6 linked regions of the Homo sapiens genome follow. The protein of the gene in region 3 purifies or fractionates together with the protein of the main gene of each other region. This does not show direct contact. Each region holds a gene or a part of one and is shown on either strand. Other genes may lie near its edges.

What was found.
Region 1: the proteins of MPV17 (region 3) and SLC25A24 fractionate together in Homo sapiens (co-fractionation; one large-scale study listed by BioGRID). This does not show direct contact.
Region 2: the proteins of MPV17 (region 3) and SCFD1 fractionate together in Homo sapiens (co-fractionation; one large-scale study listed by BioGRID). This does not show direct contact.
Region 4: the proteins of MPV17 (region 3) and MSLN fractionate together in Homo sapiens (co-fractionation; one large-scale study listed by BioGRID). This does not show direct contact.
Region 5: the proteins of MPV17 (region 3) and RALA fractionate together in Homo sapiens (co-fractionation; one large-scale study listed by BioGRID). This does not show direct contact.
Region 6: the proteins of MPV17 (region 3) and NDUFA10 fractionate together in Homo sapiens (co-fractionation; one large-scale study listed by BioGRID). This does not show direct contact.

Annotation. Positions count from the first base shown.
Region 1 is NC_000001.11:108,141,344-108,144,843, forward strand, and holds part of SLC25A24 (mitochondrial adenyl nucleotide antiporter SLC25A24), read right to left. Parts: intron 2,368-3,500; coding exon 2,200-2,367; intron 1-2,199. UniProt on the Homo sapiens protein: Electroneutral antiporter that mediates the transport of adenyl nucleotides through the inner mitochondrial membrane. Originally identified as an ATP-magnesium/inorganic phosphate antiporter, it also acts as a broad specificity adenyl nucleotide antiporter.
Region 2 is NC_000014.9:30,670,819-30,674,318, forward strand, and holds part of SCFD1 (sec1 family domain-containing protein 1), read left to right. Parts: intron 1-2,438; coding exon 2,439-2,529; intron 2,530-3,105; coding exon 3,106-3,179; intron 3,180-3,500. UniProt on the Homo sapiens protein: Plays a role in SNARE-pin assembly and Golgi-to-ER retrograde transport via its interaction with COG4. Involved in vesicular transport between the endoplasmic reticulum and the Golgi.
Region 3 is NC_000002.12:27,313,098-27,316,597, forward strand, and holds part of MPV17 (mitochondrial inner membrane protein Mpv17), read right to left. Parts: intron 13-3,500; coding exon 1-12. UniProt on the Homo sapiens protein: Non-selective channel that modulates the membrane potential under normal conditions and oxidative stress, and is involved in mitochondrial homeostasis.
Region 4 is NC_000016.10:763,734-766,547, reverse strand, and holds part of MSLN (mesothelin isoform 1 preproprotein), read right to left. Parts: intron 2,526-2,814; coding exon 2,405-2,525; intron 1,902-2,404; coding exon 1,822-1,901; intron 1,642-1,821; coding exon 1,512-1,641; intron 1,439-1,511; coding exon 1,245-1,438; intron 1,022-1,244; coding exon 931-1,021; intron 858-930; coding exon 758-857; intron 490-757; coding exon 311-489; intron 214-310; coding exon 58-213; intron 1-57. UniProt on the Homo sapiens protein: Membrane-anchored forms may play a role in cellular adhesion. Megakaryocyte-potentiating factor (MPF) potentiates megakaryocyte colony formation in vitro.
Region 5 is NC_000007.14:39,696,572-39,700,071, reverse strand, and holds part of RALA (ras-related protein Ral-A precursor), read right to left. Parts: intron 3,388-3,500; coding exon 3,213-3,387; intron 1-3,212. UniProt on the Homo sapiens protein: Multifunctional GTPase involved in a variety of cellular processes including gene expression, cell migration, cell proliferation, oncogenic transformation and membrane trafficking.
Region 6 is NC_000002.12:240,001,343-240,004,842, forward strand, and holds part of NDUFA10 (NADH dehydrogenase [ubiquinone] 1 alpha subcomplex subunit 10, mitochondrial isoform 1 precursor), read right to left. Parts: intron 1-3,500. UniProt on the Homo sapiens protein: Accessory subunit of the mitochondrial membrane respiratory chain NADH dehydrogenase (Complex I), that is believed not to be involved in catalysis. Complex I functions in the transfer of electrons from NADH to the respiratory chain.

The sequences.
Region 1 (3,500 bases), on a different chromosome or scaffold from region 3:
CACCACCCCACTTAATGGTGTTGGGGAGGACATGGAGAAATTGGAATCTTGGTGTACATTGATAGAAATGTTAAAAAACAAAAAGGTCTAGTTACTATGGAAAATGACATGGAGGTTCCTCAAAAACTTAAAAATAGAATTACCATTTGACCCAGAAATTCCACTTCTGAGTATATGTCAAAAAGAACTGAAAACAGTATCTTGAAGAGATATTTGCACAACCATGTTCACTGCAGCACTATTCACAATAGTCAAGATGTAGAAACAATCCAAATGTCCATCAACAGATGAATAAAGAAAATGTGATATATATACCCAACAAATTATTATTCAGCCTTAAAAACAAAAAAGTCCTGTTGTATGCTATCATATGGATGAATCATGAGGAAACTATGTTACATGAAATAAGCCAGTCACGGAAAGAGAAATACCACATGATTTCACTTATACAAGGTATTTAATGTAGTCAAACTCATAAAACGAGAAAGTAGGTTACACAGCGCTGGGGTGAAGGGGAAATTGGGAGCTGTTGTTTAATGACTATAGAGTTTAAGTTTTGAGAAGTGAAAAAGTTCTAGAGATCTGTTGCACAACAAACCACAAACAGTTAACACTTACTGTACTATATATTTAAAAATGGTTAAAATCATAAACTTTATGTTATGTGTTTTTAATCACAATTTTTTAAAAAACTCAGCACAAGAAGTAAAGTCCTGAACCATACCACCTCACACCTAAGAGGACGGCCATAATAAAAATAAGCTTTTTTAAAATGGAAATTAAGTGTTAATAAGGACGTGGAAAAACTGGAACCTTTGTATGTTGCTGGTGAGAATGTAAGTGCAGCCACTATGGAAAACAGTCTGATAGTTCCTAAAAGCTAAACACAGAATGACCATATGGCTCAGCAATTCCATTCTGAGATATATACCCAAAGGAATTGAAGGCATAGACTCGAACAGATACGCAGATGCCAATGTTCACTGCAGCATTATTCACAATGTTGGAAAAGTAGAAATAATCCAAATGCTCTTCAACAGATGAAGGACTAAACAAAATGTGGTATATACACATAACGGAATATTACTCAGCCATGAAAAGAAATGAAGTTCTGATACATGCTACAACATGAACAAACCTTAGAGACATTATGCTAAGAGTAATAAATCAGACACAAAAAGAAAAATACTGTATGATTCTACTTATAAGATATCTTGAATGGGTAAATTCCTAGACATAGAAAGCAGATTAGAGGTTACCAAAGGTTTGAGTTACGGAGGGTAGGAAGTTATTGCTTAAAGGTTAAGGTGTTTCTGTTTGGAGTGAGGAAAAGGATTTGGAAATAGTGTTGATGGTTGCACAATATTGTGAATGTAATTAATGCCACTGAATTGTACACTTAAAATTAGTAAAATGGCAAATTTTATATTTTATAATAATTTTTAAAAATTATGTAAGAAGCCAAAAACCATTTGCTTGTACACTTCAAATGAGTGAAATGTAAGGAATATGAACTAAATCTCAATAAAGCTCTTTAAAAAAAAAATTCGACTCTTCTTTTCATTACACATTCCACTCTTCCTCTACGCTGTAGCTTAGGTCTCATCCTAACATGCACCCTGGCTCATGTCTGTCGCAGCACAGATAACCACGCTGAGTTTTAGTCGTTTGTCTCCCCCACCAGACCTTCAGTTTCTTCAAGGCACACATTGAGTCCTTTGAATCCCCAGATCCAGTGTCTAACCTAGTGGTTTGTATAGTGTGTGCTCAATAATTGTTTGTGAGATTCATAAATTATTAAATGATTTAGATTGCAGGGTTGATCCAAGATTTGTATTCTTCCGTACAAGGAATGAAACTGTATTACTCATGTTAGTCACATTAGTCACTTGGCTTAATGTCAGATTTTTGCAAATCCAAAACAAAGGAAAAAATCTCTAGAAACACCTTTTAAGGTGAACAACTATACCTAACTTTGAGTCTACTCTTCATTAACAAAAGCAATTCCCAAGAAAATCTAATACAAAAGTGACCCCATGCATATTCACACTCAAGTTACTTGAAAGTTCAAATAACACATGCTTGAATTTACTTCTGGTCACACACTGTTTTCTGGTATATATCTACTTCTTCATATAAAGTCCAATTCTAACAAGATCTAACTGCATTTTCCAATTCAAAAGATTTCTACAAACTCACCTCATACACAGCAAGATCTATGCCTGCATAAGGTATGATACCTAATAAATTGGGAACATAGCCTTTGTAAAAAGCTCCCAAGCCTTCATGTTTCAAAATCTTCTTGGCACAATCATATATTCCAGAGTACTGCCCAGTTTTGCCTACAGCCAGCCTGGTTTTCATAACCTGGATATAAAAAAAAACAAAATATGATTGTTCATATTAACTCTATCATCATGGGATTCAAATGAAGTAATTTTACATGGAACAAATACCTAGCACATATTGTCACTCAAAAGACTGTACAATTTGTTGATACATTCTCTTTCATGTATTACCTCTATTGGGGGGCTAAGACCAAAGCCAGAGAGACCCGTTTACTGCAAGGAGGATCTGATGAAGGAAGTGACCAAGGAAATGGAAGCAAGATAATCTATTGATGTCTTAACAAAACTGACTGGTGACCACCTGCATCTGGAAGGTGAGGGAAATGGTAGTATAAAGGATAACCCCAATACTTCTAGCTTGGAACACAGGATGGGGCAGTGGGGAGTTGGGAAGGTGATACTATTAACTGATATGGAGGATATGAGAGGAAAAATAGGTATTAAGTTTTTTTGAGAGGTGTGTGGAGTAATATAAACAATCATATTAAGATGCTTAAAAAAAGCTGTATTAGCATGCATACCACATATCGGTGAAAATTGTATTTATCTTGCTTAAGTCATCAGTTACTAAAAACCCCTCTGCTATATCAATAAATTCCACATCTACAATATTATTTTTGCTATAAAGCAGTAGTTGGAAAACTTTTCCTGTAAAGACTAAATAGTAAAATATCTGTCGTTGCAAGCCTAAAATATTAGGTCTCGGTTGTATATTACTTTTCTTTTCTTTTGTTTTTGCCTACTTTTTAAAAATTGTACTTTAAGTTCTGGGATACATGTGCAGAACGTGCAGGTTTGTTACATAGGTATACACGTGCCATGGTGGTTTGCTGCACCCATCAACCTGTCACCTACATTAGGTATTTCTTCTAATGCTATTCCTCCCCTAGCCCCTCATCCCCAAAAAGGCCCCAGTGTGTGATGTTCCCCTCCCTGTGTCCATGTATTCTCATTGTTCAACTCCAACTTATGAGTGAGAACATGTGGTGTTTGGTTTTCTGTTCCTGTGTTAGGTTGCTGAGAATGATGGCTTCCAGCTTCATCCATGTCCCTACAAAGGACATGAACTCATCCTTGTTTATGGCTGCATAGTATTCCATGGTGTATATGTGCCATATTTTGTTTATCTAGTCTATCACTGATGGGCATTTG
Region 2 (3,500 bases), on a different chromosome or scaffold from region 3:
AAATTTATTCAAAGTACATTAGAAATAATGAGTGATAAAACTGCATTAATTTGCCATGTGATTTACTGTGGGCAGATATACATATCCCATGTGATGCTATGCCCCCTTAAAGTTTAGGGTACTTCATGGGCTCAGTTACTGCTATAAAAGTTATCTAGTGATCATTATGGCTAGAGCCATCATTCTAAACAAACAAAAATATTATTCCTCAGAGAAAAAGAATACTGTTCATCAACAATTATGAAAATATGATTTTTAAAAAATATTTCAAAATGTGTGTGTGTCCTTGATATAGCTGTTCTTTTTGGGCTTATATTTATTGTTTAAAGAGAAGTCGAATATAGACTTGGTTCAACATGCTGGGTTTTTAATATGCTTTATCTTTTTTTTACTTACAACTTTTTTTTAAGCTGGAAAATCAAATCGCCATAACAAAGATTTGACTTTCTCTGCAGAGAAAAGTCACTGTCTTTCTCTTTCTCACTATGGCAGTTTTAGGTACTATTTTAATTAATTTTAATAAATTTGATTTTAAATAATACTCTTCCCTTTGGAATTCCATAATCTACGTTTCCCTCCAGAATGGTGAAGTACAAGAAATTACTTTTATTAGAGAGGCATTATTTATAGAGAATACAGAATATTTTGAAGTTGGCATTCCCTAATAGAGAAAAGCTTAAGAAAAAAATCTCTGTATTCAAATATGGAAATTTTGAATTTTTTTAGAACATATGTTTAAGAACAATTTAAGAGGTCAGTTGAATAGTAAGAATTTTAACCTCCTATTCATTAAGTAGGAATAGCTCTTTTGCTCTGCATCTTACATACAATAGTAACATGGGCACAAAGACACTTGGAGATAGCATAAACAAGTGACCTAAACCTCTCTGAGCTTCAGTTTCCTCATCAGTAAAATAGGGAGATAATAATTCTACCTATTGCCCTATTTCAGAAGGTTGTTGAGAAGATTGAGATAATGAATTTAAAGGAGTAATTTGCCCAAGTCATCCAGCTTTCGTTGGTAAAGCCAGGGATGAAACCCAGGTCTTGCAGACCATAAAGCACCCAGTCTTAACATTGAATAGTTAAGTTATGATAGTTACCTCAACAGATTCATCAGGATTAAATGAGGTTGCAGTGAGCCGAGATCACGCCATTGCACTCCAGCCTGGGCAACAAGAGCAAAACTCCATCTTAAAAAAAAAAAAAAGAAAGAAAAGATAAATTCTTAGCATGGTGTTTGATGTATAGTAAAATCACTTAATAAATGTGAGCAATTATTCTCTGTTAACTCTGAGACCTAAAGATATCAGAGATTTTGAGGATTATCCAGTTCAACCCACACATTTTACAGATAAAGCTAGGGCCCTGAGAGGGTAAGAGCTTGCCTGTAAAGGAAGTTTCCATTATAATTAGATGGAACAAGGGTTTCTGACTCCCCAGTGCAATGCTGAGGCCTCAGTGCTATTTTTTGCCAACATAGACTCAACTGGAGCTGGAGTAAATGCCTGTGCTTGTGAGGTAAAATTGGACTGTGTTCCTCAGAATCCTTTCTGAGCTCCTGTCTTTTCTGCTAGTCTCCATTGGATAAAATGTGCTTGTTATTAGAGAGGTATTTTCAGATGTCAGAGCTGAGGAAGGGGGGAAAGGTTTTTGTTCACTGTTAATGAGACATGACCTTTTCTTTCTTAAAGGAGAAAAGGCTTCTGGCCTCCCCCTAGGCTGTAGATGAAAAATACTCATTTTAAGAAACATTTAATGATCAACATGTATTCACCTAGAGTTTGTCAAGATTAGTACAGTGTTTTCTACCTGAGTGCTCATGATTGCAGATCACTTCTGCCTAAAGTCTATGTAAGTTACTGCTAAACCACAATGTCCTGGTAGAAGACATCAGGTATTAGGCCACCAAAACTGTGGCCCAAGTGCTATTTTTACCAGTAGTGTTCTGGGATATTATGAGTTCTGAGTTACAAGAATTTTTTCACAGTTACTTGCAGGTGATATTTTTAAATGCTGTCTTTGTAGTTGCATGGACCCTTTGACATGACGTGTTAATTTGGATGGGAATATTTAATTGATATTTGATATAACATGACTTGTCTTCCATTGATTTTCAGTCATGTAAATATTTTACTTTTTCTTCTAAAAACGTATAAGTGAAGAGAATGTATGATACTGTTAATGAAAAATAGAAATGAAATTTAAATTTTAGATGTATATTATATGCATTTTAAAGAAATAGTATTATATAGATATCAGAAAGATATGTAGTTGTATTTGTGCTGAATCTTTTCTGCCTTTGTTATATATAACATATATTCAAATCCAAATAAGTATATTTAAAATAATAAATGTTCATTGTATATATTTTAGAATTTACACAAAAATTGGTCTTTTAATGTCATCCTCATAGTTCTTGTGCAATACTGTTTTAGTCCATTCCCAGAAGTTGCAGAATCAGTTCAGCAAGAACTAGAATCTTACAGAGCACAGGAAGATGAGGTCAAACGACTTAAAAGCATTATGGTAAGATTCTATTTGCTTTCTAAGAATTATAGGAAAGAGGAGGATTATCTGTTAGATAAAGAGATTTGGGTTTTTTTCCTTATAAAAATTGAAGGCCATTTAATGCTTTTATAACAAAAATATTTTCAACTTGCGTAAGTGATCAAAAAGAAATCTAAATATTGAGAAGAGAAAAAATAATATATGATTTGAAAAAATATATAATGTAGCATCATTTTAGAGATGTATGTTCCAATGCTGCTCATTCTACCATACTTCGATGTAACTTCAGATTTCAGCTCTACTGTTTATTGCTGTGTGACCTATGGCACGTCTCTGGGCCTGTCTCCTTATCCAAAAATGCCAGCTGATCATTTAGACATCTAACCATTAGACTGGCGATTACTAGAACTTTTATGTAACATTAAAATATATATGCTTGCACCTCAGAGGAGGAGAATTACTATTCTAGGTGACTTAAAAATCTTACGGTATATCAATAATCTTAGGATATTTGCTCCAATCTTAGGATGTGTTGATTTTTATGCTTGTGCCTGGGATTTTTGAGTAGCTATTGAGACCTTTTTTCTTTACAAGGGACTAGAAGGGGAAGATGAAGGAGCCATAAGTATGCTTTCTGACAATACCGCTAAGCTAACATCAGCTGTTAGGTAAGTGAGCAGTATATCCTCTTTGAAGTCTTTCTGTTGATAGGATTTTTTTTTTATTTAACTAAAAAATTGTTAATGTTTTTAACTAGTAGGAAACTGTAGGCAATAGCAAATATAACTTTGAATTTAAAGAACTAAATTGTATTTAGCTAAATGTTTAAGCCGATTTTAGTTCCCTCTTAGATATAGGAGATTATTCATTCTTTCACCAGTTAGAACTGTGTAATAGGGGTAATTTTATGAGGAAAATACTATTAATGATAAAGTAGGGCAAGCGATTATTAATTTTATTATAGATACTGTTTTCTTAACTAAAAGTTA
Region 3 (3,500 bases):
CCATCAGGGACCCTATGCAGGGTACACAGGTGTTGTCAGGACATCTCCTGGGATGGGCTGCCATTCCAAGGAGGGAGGGACATCTGCTGACCTCCACTGAGGCTCTGGTACTCTGAACCCCAGGGCTTCATTGTGGAAACAAATGACTAGTCCCTTCCTGCTGCCTCAAAGCCCTCACCTCCCCAATGATGGTGACACCTCATGTGTATTCTGTCAGAAACTGGGATGAGCAGACCCAGGTCCAGGAACTTTGCATTGAGCAGTAAAGGGAAGTCAGAGTCAGAAAGTATAGAGAGAGGAAGGAGAATTTAAGGCCACAGGGCTGAGAACCACAGACTGTCAGAATCAAAAGGGGCTTTAAGATAATTTAATGCAAACCACTTATTTTAGAGGTATGGAAATGAAGTCCAGGGTCTCACATAACCAGTAAGTGCAGGGCCAATGCAACAACCAGGTGGCTGGATTCCTAGACACTGTTCTTTCCAGGACTCAGCACAATGAATAAATCATGTGTAGAATGGTAGGAAACCCTGTTTTCTCCCCCAAGCCCAATGCAAGACCCTGCCAACAGCTTTCACCTTGGTCTAGGGGATCTCTATTTGTAGAGAACAGCAAGAATAACTTTTTTTTTTAAAGACTGAGTCTCACTCTGTTGTCCAGGCTAGAGTGCAGTGGCATGATCTTGGCTCACTGCAACCTCTGCCTCCCGATTCAAGCGATTCCCCTGCCTCAGCCTCTCAAGTAGCTGGGACTACAGGCACCCACCACCATGCCTGGCTATTTTTTGTATTTTTAGTAGAGATGGGGTTTTGCCATGTTAGCCAGGCTGATCTTGAACCCCTGACCTCAGGTGATCTGCTCACCTCGGCTTCTCAAAGTGCTGAGATTACAGGCATAAGCCACTGTGCCTGGCCAGAATAAATCTTTTTCTAAAACAAGAGTGCCGGCCTGGAATGGTGGCTCACACCTGTAATCCCGGCACTCTGGGAGGCTGAGGCAGGAGGATTGCTTGAGCCCAAGAGTTTGAGTCCAGCCTGGGCAATATAGCAAGACCCCACTTCTACAAAAAATTTTTTTAAACAATTAGCTGGGCACGGTGGCACGTGCCTGTAGTCCCAGCTACTCAGGAGGCTGAAGTAGGAGGACTGTTTGAGCCCAGGAGGTCCAGGCTGCAGTGATCACGCCATTACACTGCTGCCTGGGCGACAGAACAAGACCCTATCTCAAAAAGAAAAAAAAAGTAATAAAACAAGAGTGCTCAAATGGTCATAAGCAGGAAGATGACTGGTTGAGCTGATAAGAGTCCCCACAACAAAGAGTCTTGGCCACCTCTTAGCACAATCAGCTAAACCAAGATTTCCCCCATTCACAACCTTAGATTGAGTTGGCAATGGATATAGTGGTCATTTCCCTTCCAGGACTCTGCACCTGCTTCCCTTGCCCCAACTGCACAGATACCCAGCTCCAAGCAGCCCTATTTAGACACCCACACCCAGAAACGATGAAAGAAATCATCACTGTTTACAGAGCCCCCAGTCCATTATGGTGGTGTGATGGTTTCTAGCAAATACACACTTACCAGGCCACTTGGGAGTGACCGTGTGATTTCCAGCTCACCTGTCTATCTCACCGAGTAATGAGAGCCCCCCTCCAGACCCACAGTCACACTGTCCCTGTGCCCTCAATTAGCACTGGACAAACACATCCTTCTGCCCCATTCCTTGGCCCAGAACTGGCTCTGACGTCCATGCTGGCTGCACACTCACTGTTGCGTTCTTCCTCCACACCCTCTGCCCGGCCGGCCCTGCCCCTGAGCAGCCTAGTCAGTGGCAGCTGGGTATGGCTGAGAGCTGGGGTTGGGGATGGAAACCCGTGGCTCACCTCGGCTACTGGCCATGGAGCAGCTCTGGGCACCCCCAGTCCTGCCTCGTCTCTCCCTGAAACTCCCAAAGTGGTGGGGGTCTTCCCAGAACACTGCGAGGCATGACCTCCCAGGGCCAAGGATAGAATCCTAGATACCTTTGTTATCCCATCCCCTCACCATGCAGCTAAGCAAGCTACTGGTAGGTGCTCAGAAAATAAAGGGAAAACGTCAAATGTACTGTCCCAAACAGCAGGACGACTCTGAGAAAGGGTCTGAAGAATTCTTAAGTTGCCCAAAGGTCCAAGTCGGGTAGAAGGTGTGAGGACGTCGGGGGAACTGCAGGTTTGCTCCCACCCGCACCCGGTTCCCTATCCCTCCAGCCAGGGATGAGAGGGAGCTGCTGCAGCCCTGCAGAAAGGGAAGAGTGCTGCCAAGAAGGCCAGGGGATGGTGAGGCAGAAAAGGCAGTCCTTTCTCAAATGAAGGGACCAACAGTGTAACGGTCTACTTTGGTAAGGTGTTTACAAAAGACTCTTATACATTTAATCCTCACAAAAGATCTGGGAGGTAGGTGGTCACACCTCCATTCATCCATTCATTCATTCACTCATTTATTTTTGAGATGGAGTCTCATTCTGTCGCCCAGGCTGGAGTGCAGTGGTGCGATCTCCGCTCACTGCAACCTCTGCCTTCCGGGTTCAAGCGATTCTCCTGCCTCAGCCTCCTGAGTAGCTGGGATTGCAGGTGCCCACCACCACACCTGGCTGATTTTTGTATTTTTAGTAGAGATGGGGTTTCACCATGTTAGCCAGGCTGGTCTCAAACTCCTGACCCCAGGTGATCCACCTGCCTTGGCCGCCCAAAGTGTTGGGATTATAGGTGTGAGCCACGGCACCCAGCCTACACCCCCATTTAATGATGAGTCTTTGAGAGATGAGATGACTTGGTAAGGAGTGCAGTTGGAACTGAACCCAGGCCTTCTCTCAAGGAGGACCAAGGAGGCCAGGGTATTCCTGGCATGGGCTGAGATGGGCTCAGAGGTCAGTGGCACCAGGAGGCCCCTGTGGCTGCTCCCCTGCTGGGTGTTCCTGCCCAAGTGAGGCCCCAAAGGGCCTGCATATCAAAGGACATTCCCTAGACTAATGCACTTCCTCTCTGTCTTTACTCCCCCAAATTCCATCATTCTGCTCCTTGTCACCTCGTGGGGATGGCAGACAGCAATATTCCTGGGAAAGAAACAGAGAAGTGTGTGTTTTCACTCTTCATGACTTGCCAACAGTCACACAACAAGCTAGAGGCAGAGCTGGAATGAAAAGCCAAGTCCCTGACTTCTAGCCCCATAGTTCTGGAAGCCTGCAGCCTTGGAGAAAGATGGATTCAAGTCCCCCAGACTGTGCCCATCAAGCCTGAGGGACTACCAAGTGACAGGGCAGCAGTAGGGGTGAGTAGGTGGTATGTAGATCTGCAGTCCCTGACGGTTCATTTCAGAAGAGTGGTGCCCAGGGATTCCTTTGCCCACAGATGATCAGGCCCCCTGTGCCTGCAGCAACTCCAAGGTGGTATAAGGCTTTGGAGCAAGCATAGAGCAAGCCTGCTTTTCCAGCCCAAGTGACCCTTTGGGCAGGAAGGACCCAGAC
Region 4 (2,814 bases), on a different chromosome or scaffold from region 3:
TCTGCCCCTCAGCCCTTCCCAATCTCATGCCACATGACCCCCGAGCCGGACGGTCACCTGAGGACTCATTTCGTGCCCTTTGTTGACTTCAAGCAAAGCCTTCAGGGTCTCCAGGGACGTCACATTCCACTTGCGAATGTCCTCAGGGCTCATCTTGAGGAAGAGGTAGCCCAGGTGCTGGATCACAGACTCGGGGTAACCTTGTGGGTAGAGCTGCAGGCCAAGAGACCAGGAGGGCCCATGTCACTCCCAGAGGGGCTGGGGATGGCTTGGACACAGCAGGCCGGTGGGAACTTGAGTCATGAACTACCTCATCCAGTTTATGCTTTAGGACGTCCAGCTGCTCGTAGGTGAAGGGGATGGCGTTCACGCGGTCCATCTGGGTGGCCAGCAGGGCCGCATCCACGCAGGCTTCCAGCTCCCACTTCTTGTAGAAGATGAGGCTCTCGTCTATCTCGCGGGCCTTCTTGCCTGAAGGACAGGCTGTCTCTGCAGGGCACAGGGGTCAGGGGTCAGGGCCGGAGTTCGTTTGACCCCTTCTTCCTCCCACACCTCCTGTGAGATGAGACCTCGGGCCATTTGTGACCCTCCCTGTGCCTCAGTTTACCCACTGGCAAACAGGGATTCTGTCCACTCTCTGTGATTATAATGGGATGTGCTGCAGAGCCAGGGAGGGGCAGGTGAGACCCTAAAGTGATGCCCACCCCCAGGGGTGCTGCCCAGCCTGGTGCCAGACTGCGCAGGGCACGGCACTCACTCTCCACTTCCCGCCGGAACCGCGGCCGGAGGATGGTCCGTTCAGGCTGCCGCCAGGATGGGTCCCGAGAGGAGCGTTGCCGCCACGCGGCCACGATGCCCTGAGGACGAGCAGGACCTGGGCTGAGCCTCGGGTGGCCGGGCATCCCCACGGGCTGGGGATTGGGGTCTCACCTGCGGGATGCTGCGGATGATGGGCTGGCCCAGCACGGGCAGCAGGCCCCGCAGAGCGTCCATCGTGGAGACAGACCATGTCGACGGGGGGCTGTGCAGACACGGGACACAGCTCAGGGACCCCCCACGTGCAGCCCCAGAGAGGGAAGAGGCCAGGCCGTACCCCCTGGCTGTGGAGGGGACGCTGGGGGCATTGGCAGGGGTGGTGGCGGGGGTGACTGACCCTGGGCCTTGAGGCATGGCCGCAAGTGTCCTCACGCTGCTGATACCACGCCGCCAGGTGAGCCTTCGAGGTTCCAGACACCTTCACTTACCCGTAGGGGGGTCCCCCGCCCTGCAGAGCCGCCCTGGCTGCCTCCTGCTGGTCCTGGTCCAGGGGTCCCGGGCAGCTCACCAGCCGGGGTAGCAGCACTTCGGCCGACTCGGCCACAAAGCGCCCAGGCAGGTCGCAAGCCAGGCCTCCCAGAGCCCGCACATCAGCCTCGCTCAGCAGAGACCCCCGCACACCCTGCAGAGAGGCTGGCCTCAGCGCTTTTGGAACTGCCGAGCCCTCTCCGCCCCGCGCTGGCCCCAGCCCCTACCCAGCAGGCCAGAGCCGCAGGCAGCAGCCGCTGTCGCTCGGGAGCCCCCCTCGGGAGCAGGTCCACATTGGCCTTCGTGATGCGGGAGAAGAAACGGGTGCAGGCCTGGGGCCCCGAGAACGCATCTGGGCTGTGAAGAGAGGGTGCTGGGGACAGGCCGCACTGATCACACCCGTCCCCACCCTGAGAGGCAGCCCGGCCGGCCTCCACATCTCTGCTGTGGCCTGGGATCCGAGGCAAGGGGCAGGGGGTTGGGGGCTGAGGGCTGGCGGCAAAAGCCGGGGGGGTGGGTTCAGGGGGCAGGGCCTACTTGAGGAATAGCAGCAGGTCCAATGGGAGGGCGTCCAGGTCCTCGGGGGGCTCAGAGAGCCGGTGAGCCAGACAGCGCAGCTGCAGGGGCAGGGAGTCCAGCACAGAGCGTTTCGAGCCGCCACTCACATGGTGGGCCAGGGTCGCCTGGCCAGTCTGCCCACCACAACACACCCCTGCCCTGGCCACGAGAATCTGTGGAAGTGGATCTCTGGCCGCCTGCAGCGCTGCCCTGGGGGATGGGGGCTCCCGTGCCTGGCTCCGCTCCCCTTCCCCAGATCTCACCCACTCCCCCGAAAAAGATTCACCCTTGGGGCAGAGCCTGGAGGGCTGCCCACGGCGCTCCAGGAGGGGGCCCAGCACACAGCGTCATATCAGACTTGCTCCTGGGGAGCCAGCCCCTGACGTGGACAGGCACCCCAGTGGTCAGCTTGGGTGGCCAGAGGAACTCTGGGAAGAACTGGCCGGGGAGAGATGGCAGCAGGGACAGAGGGGACCGTGGTGGCAAGGTGGGCACTGCAGAGCTGCCTGTGAATTCCTCAGCCCCAGCTGTGCCCACCTGCCTCAGCCCAACTGAGACTGACCTGCTCTGTTGAGAGCTTGACATTCTTCTGTGCCAAGGCCACAGCCAGCTCCCGGACACGCTCCGTGCTCAGGCCGGACACCTCCGCACACGGGAAGCCAAGGAGTTGGCGAGGGGAGAGGCTGCAGGAAGGGTCGGGCTGGGCACCCACGATCGCCCCTCCCCTGCAATGTCCACCCAGTGCTCCCCAAGCCCCACAGCCCCACCTCTCCCCAAAGGACCCTGGTGCTCCCTGCAGACCTCCCCCCAAGACCAGGTGACGCCCTCAAGGGCCGGGAGTTGCCATCACCTGAGGGGTGTCAGTCCCTCCCGCAGTCCTGAGCCCAGTCAGATCTGAGGTGGAGCAGAGGAGGAAGGGGGAGGGGATGCTGGGGGATGGGGTGCCCTGCCCACCCTCAGTCCCGAGGGCCC
Region 5 (3,500 bases), on a different chromosome or scaffold from region 3:
ATGCCCGTGGATCCCAAAATCTCTACCTACTCAAGTCCCGCAGCTGGCCCTGCAGAACACATGGATGCAAAAAGCCAGCCCTCCGCATATGCAGGTTTCACATCCTGCTGTATTCTCTGTCTGCATTTGGTTGTGGATGCAGAGCCCACCGACATGGAGGCAGACTGCATCTGTGAAAAAAAAATCTGCACAGCTCAAATCTGTGTTGTTTGAGGGCCAAGTGTCCATGAATATGGCAAAAAGTTCACAAGGGTATTTACAGTGAAAAAAGCATAAACTGTGGCTTAATTCTCTGGAGGCAACCACAGGTACCAGAGTCTTACATATCCTTATGATGTGTACATAGATAATGTGTATGTATGTGTGTTTAAAACACATGGCAGCAAGCTACAGACACCACTCTGTACTTTGTTTCACTTACTTTATAATTGAAGATCATCTGATATCAGCACATTTAGTTCTATCCTCATTTCTTTTTAATGGTTGGGCAAAACTCCATTATTTAAACCAGTCCATTACTGAACACTTGGATATTTCCAGTCTTTTGCTTCTAAAAATAATGCTTCACTGACTACCACTGAACATACACGTATACGTGAGTGCATAATTTGTTCTGTATAATAACATTTTTAGGCCGGGCGTGGTGGCTCACGCCTGTAATCCCAGCACTTTGGGAGGCCGAGGCGGGTGGATCATGAGGTCAGGAGATCAAGACCATCCTGGCTAACAAGGTGAAACCCCGTCTCTACTAAAAATACAAAAAATTAGCCGGGCGCGGTGGCGGGCGCCTGTAGTCCCAGCTACTCGGGAGGCTGAGGCAGGAGAATGGCGTGAACCCGGGAAGCAGAGCTTGCAGTGAGCCGAGATTGCGCCACTGCAGTCCGCAGTCCGGCCTGGGCGACAGAGCGAGACTCCGTCTCAAAAAAAAAAAAAAAAAAAAAAAAAAAAAATAACATTTTTAGCACTTAAATTGCTGGGTCATAATTCTGATGGGTATCACAAAACTGCCCTTCCACCAACATATGAGAGGTTCCTGTTTTTCTATACTCTTGCTAACAGTATATTCTATTCTCAACCTCTTTGCTTTTTTTCTCCCAAAGTGACGGGTAAAAAAAGGACATTCCACTATATTTTAAAGTTGTACTTCCCTTTTTATAAGTGAGACCGAGCCTCTCTTCCAGTTTAAAGGCCATTTGTGTTTCCTTTCTACGACATGCCAGTTGCTGTTTTTGGGCCATTTTCCCTAGGCTTTTGTCCTGTAAGAGCTGTGCTAATACAGACACCATACTTCCCAGGGCCTCTGATGCCAACAGATGATCACCACAAGGACTGTTACAATATAGCTTTCTATCTTGGATTGCCAGTGTCTGCATCTCTTCCCCACTCCCCTTAGGTTCAAATAGTTTTTATAGTGTGTTCTACAACCTACTCGAAACATCGATTAGAAAAGTATATATATGCTATGAGAATGTTCAACGTTGCCTTTTAAAACCTCAAACACCCTCAATCTTAACATATATTTTCATTAGTATTTTAAAAATATTTGCCATACAAATTGTCTCTTCAAATCTATAATTTTCTAATGACTTAGAAATGGCAGGCACAGGCTGGGCATTTTACATATGTGATTTCATTTCATCTTTACAATAATCCTATGAAGCAGGTATTCTTGTTCCCATTTCCAAATGGAAGCTAACTGAAATACCCAAGCCCTAGTTACTGTGTTCAGAAACCATGGTTCCCAGGAAACTATGATAGGGCATGCTATGGACTGAATGCTTGTGTCACCCCAAAATTCATATACTGAAACCCGAATTCCTTATGTGATGGCAATAAGAGATGGGGCCTTTGGGTCGTAATTACGTCACTAGGGTAGGGTTGTCATAATGGAATTAGTATCCTAAGAAGAATCAGGAGAGCTATCTCTCTCTCTCTGTCATGTGAGGATGCAGCAGGAAGGTATAAGGAAATCCAGCAAATCAGGAAGAAAGCCCTCTCCAGAATCATTTTGTCTAAGACCTTGATCTTGGACTCGCCAGCCTCCAGAACTGTGAGAAATAACTTTGTTATTTAAGCAAAACACACATACACACACATACACACACACACACACACACACACACTTGCCCTAGTCCTAACCTTAGAAAAAATTCGTATCCTGAATAGAATCCTGTAGTACTCACTTTGTACAGATATCTTAGACCTAAAGGAATCTGACAATGTCTTAAAAAGTTAAGAAGCTTAAGACAGCAACGACACTGTCTTAAGACCTACAGCAAAATAACAGAACAAATCTCAAACTTTTTTTTTAACCTAGTACTTTCTGGATCAGGGTTATAAATCTACAAGCACATGCAGCACTTGCTAGAATCATAAATTCTTAGGCCCCATTCCAGACCAAATGAATCCAAATCTCTAGGGGTAAGACCCAAGAATGTGTGTTTATCAAGATTTACAGGCAGTTCTTTTGCCTATTGGAGCTTGAGAGGCACACTATAGAGCCTAGATACTTGCAGGCTGAAGAAAGACCCCACTTGGAGGCCTTTAAGATTCTGTGCTACCTCAGCCCAGTGAGCAGTCTTTCTAGATACTGGAGCTGGTCTAGGGCAGTGGGATGAAATGTACTTGCAGGTGTTCCACATCTGGTCTTCAGGAAGGGCCACTCTGAACAAAGCGAGAAGACAAGAAAGGAGGGCAGAGTGTTTACTTTCCTTTCTTTCTCTTTCAGGAGAAAACAAAGGTTGAGGGTGGGGAGTGGAGAGTGGCAGGAGAGATTTTAAAACGCTCTTATCTGGGGGCTTCTTCATCTTGGGAGGTACCCTTATTTTTAAGAACTTAAGTGGGGTTGGGTAGATGTCAGGTCAGAGGTAAGAACGGTTTAGTGCTGGAATCTTGGGACTCACACGATTCCTTCTAAATTATCCAAAGACTCAATAGGATAAGGGGGGAAAAAAGTCAGGAATGCCATCAGTGCTTTAAAAAGAAAAAAAGTACATTTAGCTGTAGTGTCTCATGTTTTAATGTCTCTTGGGAAGCTAAGGACAAGGTGAACTAAAATTCCTAACATGTATCTGAGTATTCAGGGATGATAAAAATCAACAAGGATTAAACCTCTATTTGAAAGTTTCATAGACTCTCCAGACAAAATGGAGCCAAGTTAAAGCAAACCAACCTATTTTAACATGATGCAGTAGTAAAGAGTCACGTGTTACCTTGTCAACATTAGCTCGTGTTTTAGCAGATGTTTCCACGTAGTTAACATTCCACTGCTCAGCTCTGTTTTTTGCCTCTTCTACAGAAACCTGTCTTTTATCTTCTAAATCTGATTTGTTACCAACCAGTAGAAATGGAACATTCTCATCTTCTTTTACTCTTAAAATCTGCTCCCTGGATAAGAGAAAATGAAAAAGAAATATTAACATTATAAGGATAGCACAGAAAGTTCTTGTTTGCCCCATACCTATTTTTCCCTATTGTTAACATCTACTACTGTGGTACAC
Region 6 (3,500 bases), about 210 Mb from region 3:
AGTATAATAATATACCATAAACAGTATCATAACATAGTCCCTAAAACTTTAGTACTTATGATATATACACATGGTTCTGAGCCTTTCAAATTATTCCCACATTTAATCCCCACAACAGTCCTATGAGGTAGCTTCTATTTTCTTCCTGCTTTACAACAAGGAGACAGAGGCTCAGAGAGGTTAGGCCCCTTGCCCAGGGGCACAGTGACAGGTGAGTGGCTGAGTCCCTCTCAAGGGATCCTTCTGACCTGGTTATGAAATGGTGAGTCTCTGGTATTACAACAATCATTTTCTTCTCAGAAATATACTTTTATTTTCTCCTCTTGGTCTCCATCACCTACGCATCCCTGTCCTAAAGTTAAAATTACTCGGAATAAACCAATGTTTGATGGCCCTTGCCACAGTTCACAGCAAAGCACACACTGACTTTGCAACAAAAATGGCTGCACAGGGAATAATCAGCTGACTTCAATGACTCAGAGAAACTTCTACATTCAGACACCTCAGAGGACCCCTCTAATTTCTGGTCGGTCGCCCTGTCAATCAGCAAACTCACGGCCCTCAGGTTGAAATGTGTTGTCCACCTGGAGTAGGCACTGTAACCCTTGGCCATTGTCTCCAGGATGCAGAATATTTATTCAGAGGCCAAAAGCAGTGCTTTGTGCTTTACTTCCATCTCCTAGTAATGGCTCAGAAAGACAAGGAAGGCCGGCGCAGTGGCTCCCGCCTGTAATCCCAGCACTTCTGGAGGCCGAGGCAGGTGGATCACCTGAGGTCAGGAGTTCAAGACCAGTCTGCCCAACATGGCGAAACCCTGTCTCTACTAAAAATACAAAAAATTAGCCGGGTATAGTGGTGCATGCCTATAATCCCATCTACTCAGGAGGCTGAGGCAGGAGAATCGCCTGAACCAGGAGGCAGAGGTTGCAGTGAGCTGAGATTGCGCCACTGCACTCCAGTCTGGGCAACAAGAGCAAAACTCTGACTCAAAAAAAAAAAAAAAAAAAAAAAAAAGACAAGGAAAGCGGGTTTTGTTGTTTGTTTTACTTTCTAATGGAAGATTTGCTAGATTCCTTTCAAAAGACTTTCTAGAGAGCCAATCATTTCAGTAAGCTACTTTTAGATTAACACCATTTTATACAGTAGTCAGTATATGGAATATAATATATGAAATTTATATTTGTTTTTTCCTTCAATACACATGGCCTAGCACTCTACCTCACTGCCATAATCTTACATATGGAGGCACAGGCAGATAAAGTGACTTGTCCCAAGTCACACAGCCAGCTAAGGGCTGACCTGACCCTTCCCGTCTCCTCAGTCTGACATGAGGACCCCACAGTGTGCCTACCTTGCTCACCCTTCAGTATCCATTCCACTAACTAGAAAACTGATTTTGCAAATACTATTTTAACAGGGGGGCAGGAATTAACAAACTAAGTAGAATGACTAGTTTTTTTTAATGTAAACCTATTTTTTGCTTATTAATGCTGTACTAAAAACATCAAACAGAAGTGAACTTCTTTTGAGAGACAGAGTCTCTGTCGCCCAAGCTGGAGTACCGTGGCGTGAACACAGCTCATTGCAGCCTCAACCTCCCAGGTTCAAGTGACCCTCCCACCTTAACCTCCCAAGTAGCTGAAACTATAGGCATGCACCACCATACCCAGATAATTTTTAAATTTTTTGTAGAGATGGGGTCTCACTATATTGCCCAGGCTGGTCTCGAACTCCGGGGCTCCAGCAATCCTCCCACTTGAGCTTCCCAACGTGCTGGGTTTACAGACGTGAACGCTGCCTGGCCAGAAGTAAACTTATTACACATTCTGTTTACATTTTGATCAGTGAACTTTTAGTGACATGTGCAGTGAGCCAGCTGTCCCTCTGGTCATCCTAGGAGACTACTGTATCACTCACATCCCATCAGGCAGAGAAAGAAGGTAAGCACCAACGGCCTAAGAACACCAACATCACAGGGCCAAGAACAGAGCTGCCATCTGTAGGCACCAACTTCCTAATTTACATCCAAACGTTGAGGAGAGGGAAGTTGAGTGCCCCGGCCATCCTTGTGCCTCCAGGCCCTCGAGAGGCAAAGTGTTGGTGCAGTCTGCACAGAGCATCCTGGGTAGAGGCAGGAAGCAGCACAGGGCAGGCTCAGGCCAAGGGCTCGAGACTTAACACAAAAGGCAGATCCCCAAATAGCTACTCATGTTTCCTGCATTTTCACAAGTCAAAGACCCTCAAATTACTCCAATCTTGATTTATAAATAATCAGAATTATGATACAACAGCACTTCTCATTACAAAATCATCTCTGAATTTTGTAGAATTTATAGCCCTAAAAGAAATCAAAGTCACTCACTCCAGATACATCTCCTGAGTGCACGCTGGATATGAGGCCTGTACCAGGAACTGGGCGTTGCAGTGATGAGAAGCAGCAGGGGGTGGGTGGTGGAGGACAGACCCAAGCAGGATGAGATTCCCGGGTGGCCAGCACCAGCCAGGACAGAAGAGGCAGAGCTGGGGATCACCGGTGGGAAGGTCAATGCACAGAGACACTGCAAGAGGCAGCCGAGGGATATTTGCTGGGTGTGCAGGGTAAAGGTCTGGGCCAAGACCTACGGTGGTATCCACGCTATCCACAGCTGTGTGACTAGGTACGTCCTCAAGAAACTGAATTCAACGGACGAGACACTGCCCGGGGTCACTGTGCCTGCCAGAGCCCAGCAGCAGGCAGAAGGAACCAGAAAAAGAGAGCCCGGCCCCAGAAGGCAGCAGCTGGTGGAGGAGTGAGAGAGTGGGGGAGGAGGAGGGCATGGAACCAGGAGAAGGGAGTGGAGAAGAGGGGCAGCGGTGCTGCTTCCAGGGCCAGGGAGCAGCATGAAGACAGACAAGGGTCTGCCGCATCTGGAATGGCGAGGCCGTCTCCTTGGCAGGAGCAGTTTCAATAGAGTGGTGCAGATGAAGACAGCTTTTTTCAACCTTACCTAATCGGTATGGTTTTTGTTTTTCATTTAATAGATACCAAAGAATCCACACAATAGCTGAATGGATATAAGTCATATCGTATTACTCCTCTGCTTCAAACCCCCAAACGGCATCTCATCTCATCAGAAGAAAACCCACCAAACGCACCAAGACCTATCCGCCTTCTGCTGTGGCCTCCCCTCCTAGTCCTACCCCCTTCTGCAGTGGCCTCCCTTCCTAGTCCTGCCCTCTTCCACCGCGGCCTCCCCTCCTAGTCCTGCCCCATTCCGCCATGGCCTCCTCTCCTAGTCCTGCTCCATTCCGCTGTGGCCTCCCCTCCCCACACTTTTTCTGGCCACACTGGCTTGGCTGCTGGGCGCACCTTCCCACCACACTCCTGCCTGAAGAGCCTCTGCACCTGCCAAGCCCCTGCCCTCTGCTCACCCCACGGCCCACAGGACCCAATCCTGGCCTCACTTAGGCCTCATCCCGAGAGAGGCCCTTTGTCACCCCTAGCTACTCACCACCCTGTT